Regions from separate parts of the Homo sapiens genome. Here region 2 is linked to region 1. Evidence: fine-mapped expression QTL. A gene starts in region 1. The other region holds a variant in brackets. All regions are shown on one strand. Distances are between the middles of the regions.

Region 1 (2,909 bases):
TACTCCACCAAAAATACTTCAACAGTAAGTTAATGCTATCTAATAGAAAAAAATAAAACACATCCCAGTCTTTTTCAATGCACCTTAGGCTACTCACACAGGGAGGCACACTGTTTATTTTGCTTTAGTCTGAACTCATTCAGATTTGTAACCTTTGACACACTTGCCACTTTAGACAACAGTGCATACAGTAACTGACCAGTGTTGCTAGCTTTTTTCTGCCAAAGCCCTATGCGAAGAAAGACACTGAGGCAGCAGTGTCTTCCTAACAGCTGGTTTCCAACTTTTCTCGAATATAATTTTATCCAAGCATCCACGCAGTCGATCACGTACCTTGCTTGGCCTTGTAGCCCAGTCGGCGCGCTTTATCAGGCCGGGTGGGGCGGGGAGCCCTGTGGAGAGCAGAGAGCTGGCGGTACTGCCAGCAGCGGACCCTCAGAAGAAAGCGCATGACATCAGACTGCTTCTTTCTCCATAGCTCCTGGATGTACTTGTATGCACCCATCTTGGCTTACCTGTGAAATCAAACTGTGTATTAAATATCATCCGCTTTAAGTACAATAAGACGACTGTATCCGTCCATCTTAGTTCCCCAACAAAAACAAGGAAACCGCCGGGAATGAAAATGGCTCTGCACCAACTGCCGGGGACAGCTAGCCCAACCCCCACCACTGCGCCCACGGAGCCGCGTTCAGTCACTTCCGCAACCCCAGCACAGAGCGGTGCTCGGCACGTTTTGGTGGGGCGAATTAACAGAACCAGAACTGAGCACCAAGGGGGCGGGTGGCTGCGGCAGGCGGCGTCCCCAAGGAGGACCTGAAAGGAGATGCCGCTGACATCACAGGACAAGGTACTGCTGCGGCCACCGAGGATTAACTCTCGAGGAAAATGCATCTACCCCACCCAACCAGCAGCCTCACTTTAGGCTGCCTTGTCCCGGGCGCCCCATTCGTCAGCCCCACGCCTCCTCCAGGATCCGGGCCCAGCTCGAATTCGCGCCGCCATCACATCTTCGCTCAACCCGCCCCGGGGGCCGCCTCTCCACCCCTTTGCTGTCCCGCATCCTGACCAAACTCTGGCCGCACAGGAGGGAGACCTATCTCCGAGGACGCAGGGTCCCCGGACCTGGATGGCTGAAGAGGAAGACGATCAAAGGCGGATGGAAGAGCAAAGATCCTCAACGCAGCCTACCTGATGGCTGCCGCCAGACGGAAAGGAAAGAGCTGTACTCCCACAATGCCTTTTGGGCTCCTCCCCCACCTCAGCCACCCTCTTTCCGGTGGAAAGCTGCGGCCTCCCAGAGCGTCATGGGACATGTAGTTCCGGCATCGCGCCTGGTGGCGGAGTTCTGCCGAGTGGGGCGCCGCGGCCGCTATTGTCCCGCCCCCTGCTCCGCAAGATTCGAGCCTGAGCGGCCTGGGCGTCTCGAGAGGTGAGAGAGTTGGCGGCGAGGTCTCGGCGGCTAAGCGAGCGTCGGCGACTGTCTCTCCGCGAGAGGAGGCAAGTTGGGGTCCAGGCTCCAAAGCCGGTGGCCGCGTACCGCGGTGGAGCCGCTGTCTTTGAGGTCTGAGGAGAGAACAGGTTTGTTTCACGCACCGCGGGCTCTCCCCCTGCGGAGTCTCTGCGTCTCCGCGTCTCCGCGCTGCGCTGTCCCTCTCTGGCCACCGCACGACGGGCGCAGAAATCTGGGCCCCAGAGCTGCGCTGAGAGATCCCCCGACGCTTCCCCAGCCTCCCAGGGAGGCCTTCGCGGAGTCGGGGCGTCGCGGGTCGGGGCGCTCGCTGTGTCCCTTCAGCTCCAGACTGCGTGAAGCTCCTCCAGCAGGCCCCAGCGCCCAGGGATTTTGTCCTAAAAAAGGGTCATGGAGTGGGTGGATTGCGGGCGGCCCGGCGCTTTTTCTGCATACGGATTTCGTCCCAAATTTGCTAACATGAGAACCACAGTTTTTCAGAAGAGCAGAATGTTTATTTGCCAAGACCTGTTTGGCAGGTGTGAATGTTTTAGAGAAGAAATGCCGAGAAAATGCTGGCATTTTGCGTTGCGGGTTTTTTTTTAAATTGAGAAATAGGTTACTGGCTTACTTTGTTTCTCCAGAATATTTTCACTTGGCTTTAATTTAAGTCATGTGGCTTTAATTTCCTTCCAGATTATGCGTTCAGATGTGGCAAAGGCTTAAGAGAATCATTATCTCTTAATCGTAGCGGTTTTGATTATCTTTTTTCCCACATCATATTTTTCTTTCTTTCTTTTTAAATCACAGCTTTACGTTTTTAAGAGTCTCTATCTGGTTCATTGATTGATTCAACAAATATTTATTAAGTGTCTAATATGTGCCAGGCATAGTTGCTGGGGATGCAGCAGGAAACAACGCAGAATTTTTGGCCTTCTTGGAAATGGGCAGTAAGCAGAAGTAAGCTGTGTTTTGGGTTTGGTGGTAAATGCTAAGGAAAAAAGATAAGGGGAGGGAAGTGATGAGGGAGTGTTAGCGGCTGAGGGTTGCAATTTGGAATGGAGTGTCCAGGTTAAGTCTTTGAGAGAAGGTAACATTTAAGAAAGGACTTCAAGGATAGGAGTCTGGGAGTAAGAGTAGGGGTCTGATTCAGGCAGAGGGAGAAGAGCCATGACTGGAGCATGCAAGATTAATAGAGGAACAGCAGGGAAGCAGTGTGGCTGAAATTCACAGTAGGGGAAAGTGGGAAATGACGTCGGAGAGGTGAAGGTTCTCACATGGACTTTGGATTTCATTGGCAGATTTTGAACAGAAGGATGACTTCATATGGCGTACATTTTAAAAAGATAACTCGGATTGCTCCTTTTGAGGCTAAAAGGAGAGAAAAAATGGAAGCAGAGAGACTGCTTAGGAAATTGTGTTAGTCTTCCATTGCTCCTGTAACAAATTTCAGCAACTT
Region 2 (2,909 bases), 65 kb after region 1:
GGTGAGCCGAGATCATGCCATTGCATTCCAGCCTGGGTAACAAGAGTGAAACTCCATCTCAAAACAAAAAAAAAAACAAAACAAAATAAGGCTGGGCATGGTGGCTCATGCCCATAATCCTAGCACTCTGGGACGCCAAGGTGGGAGGATCACTTGAACCCAGGAGTTCGTGACCAGCCTGGGCAACATGGTGAGACCCCTGCTCTACAAAAATACAAAAACCTAGCTGGGTGTGCTGGGTGCAGTGGCACGTGCCTGTAAGTCCCAGCTACTGGGGAGGCTGAGGTGGGAGGATCGCTTGAGCCCAGAAGGTCATGGCTGCACTGAGTTGAGATTGCACCACTGCACTCCAGTCTGGATGACAAAGTGAGACCCTGTCTCAAAAAAAGAAAAAAGAGAAATAAAAAGTATTCAGATTGGAAAAGAAGTAACACGATCTGTATTTGCAGATGACATGATCTTGTAGAGAGAAAACTCAAATCCACTAAAAAGCTCTTAGGACCAATAAACAAGCTGAACAAAGCTGTAGGATACAAAATTAATACACAAAAACCAACCATCGCTATATACTACCCGTGAGTAATCAGAAAATGTAATTTTTAAAAATTCAAATTTACAATAGTATCTGAGTAAAATACATAAGAATAAATTTAACATAAGCATAAAATATGTACACTGCAGACTAAAAACCATCATTGAAATAAATTAAGGGAAATATAAATAACTGAAAAGACATTTAATGTTCATGAATCATGTGTTAGTCCATTTTGTGTTGCTATAAAGGAGTATCTAAGGCTAGGTAATTTATAAAGAAAAAAGGTTTATTTAGCTCATGGTTCTCCAGGTTGTACAAGAAGCATAGTGCCAGCATCTGCTTCTGGTGAGGCCTCAGGAAGCTTCCACTCATGGCAGAAGATGAAGGGAGAGCAGGCATGTGACATGACAGGAAAGGGAGCATGAGAGAGTGGGGAGGTCCCAGACATTGTTTAAACAATGAGATCTTGCATGAACAAAGCAAGTGAAAACTCACTCATTACCGTGAGAGCAGCACCAAGCCATACATGAAGGGTCTGTCCCTGTGACCCAAACACCTCCCACCAGGCCCCACCTCCAATGCTGGGGATCACATTTCAACACAGGATTTGGAGGGGACAAACATCCAAACTGT[A/G]CAGATCTGAATTTTAATTTTTTTTTTATTTTTTAGAGACAGGGTCTCTGTCACCCAGGCTGAAGTGCAGTGGTGCAATCACTGCAGCCTCGAACTCCTGGGCTCAACTGATCTTCCCACCTCAGCCTCTTGACTAGCTGGCACTACAGATGTGCACCACCATGGCTGGCTTATTTTATTCTTTATAGAGAAGAGGGTCTCACTTTGTTAATCAGGCTCATCTCAAACTCCTGGCCTCAAGTGATCTTTCCACCTTGGTCTCTCAAAGTGCTGGGAATATAGTAGGCATGAGCCACTGTACCCAGCCTAAAATTAATATGGGAATACTTCTCAAACTGGTGTACAGATTCAACATAAACCCTGTAAAAACCCCAGCTGGACTGTTTAAAAAAAAACAAAATGAAAAACAGAAATTGACAAGCGGATCCTAAAATTCATATGGAAATGCAAGGAACATAGAATAGCCAAACAATCTTTAAAAAGAACGAAGCTAGAGGACTTCCTTCTCAATTTCAAAACTTACTATGAAGCCACAGAAATTAAGACATCGTAGTACCAGCAAAAGGATAGATACAAAGATCAATGGAACCTAATTAAGAGCCCAGAAATAAACTCTTACATTTACAGGTAAATTGATTTTTGACAAGAGTGCCAAATCAGCTCAATGGAGACAGAATAGTCTTTTTTATCAAATGGTGTTGGGAACAAAAGAATAGCCACAAACAAAAAAATGAAACTGAACCCTTCTTCACACCACACACAAAAATTAACTCAAAATGGATTACTGATCCAAATCGAAAAACTAAAAGTATGAAACTCTTAGAAGAAAATATAGGAATAGGCTGGGCATGGTGGCTCATGCCTGTAATCCCAGCACTTTGGGAGGCTGAGGCAGGTAAACTGCTTGGGCCCAGGAATTCAAGACCAATCTGGGCAACGGGCAACACGGCAAAACCCTGTCTCTTAAAAAAAAAAAAAAAAAAAAAAAGCTGGGTGTGGTGGCGCACATCTGTAGTCCCTGCTACTGGAGAGGCTGAGGTGGGAGGACTGCTTGAGCCTGAGGCTGCAGACAGCCATGATCATGCCACAGCTCTGGCATGGGTGACAGAAAGAGACCCTATCTCAAAAAAAAAAAAAAAAAAAACAATCAGGTGTGCCGGATGCAGTGGTGCATGCATGTAGTCCCAGCTACTTGGCTGAGGCAGGACCATCACCTGAGCTCAGGAGTTTGAGGCTGCAGTGAGCTAGGATTGCACCACTGCTCTGGTGACTGAACAAGACCCTATCTCAAAAAAAAATAATAATAATAATAAAGAGGAGTAGATAATGGTTTCTTAAATACAATTCCAAAACACATGCAACAAAAGAAAAATAGGTAAACTGGACTTCATTGAAACCACAAACTTTTGTACTGCAAGCAATACCATCAAGAAAATAAAAAGACAACCCACAGACAGGGTAGAAAACACTTGTAAATCATGTATCTAATAAAGTACTTTTATCTGGAATAAAAATAATTTTTAATGGCCAGGCACAGTGGCTCACACGTGTAATCCCAGCACTTTGGGAGGCTGAGGCAGGAGAATCACTTGAGGCCAGGAGTTCAATACCAGCCTGGGCAATATAGTGAAACCTTGTCTTAATAGATTGATATATTAGATAGATAAATAAGAACTTTTAAAATTCAGCCATTAAAAAGCCTGAATTTTATTAATAAAACAGGCAAAATATCTAAAAGACA

What was found. PIP is the estimated chance that this variant, and not a neighbour inherited with it, causes the effect. A credible set is the group of variants that fine-mapping cannot tell apart.
Region 2: its variant is the best candidate, but not a certain one, in a credible set for the expression of RPL15 in whole blood (INTERVAL, PIP 0.51).

Annotation. Positions count from the first base shown.
Region 1 is chr3:23,915,456-23,918,364 of GRCh38, reverse strand. It overlaps RPL15 (ribosomal protein L15), which reads right to left and starts at 1,233. Exons shown (of 4, transcript NM_002948.5): 1 at 1,192-1,233; 2 at 334-515. The coding sequence starts at 505. NKIRAS1 (NFKB inhibitor interacting Ras like 1) reads left to right here and starts at 1,375. Exons shown (of 5, transcript NM_020345.4): 1 at 1,375-1,581. RefSeq lists enhancers at 492-591, 521-1,720, 972-1,771.
Region 2 is chr3:23,850,085-23,852,993 of GRCh38, reverse strand. The region is part of intron 3 of UBE2E1 (ubiquitin conjugating enzyme E2 E1); the gene reads right to left. Among named protein-coding and RNA genes, the nearest start is that of UBE2E1-AS1, 45 kb to the right of the region's middle. The variant A/G (reference allele first, on the strand shown) is at 1,169.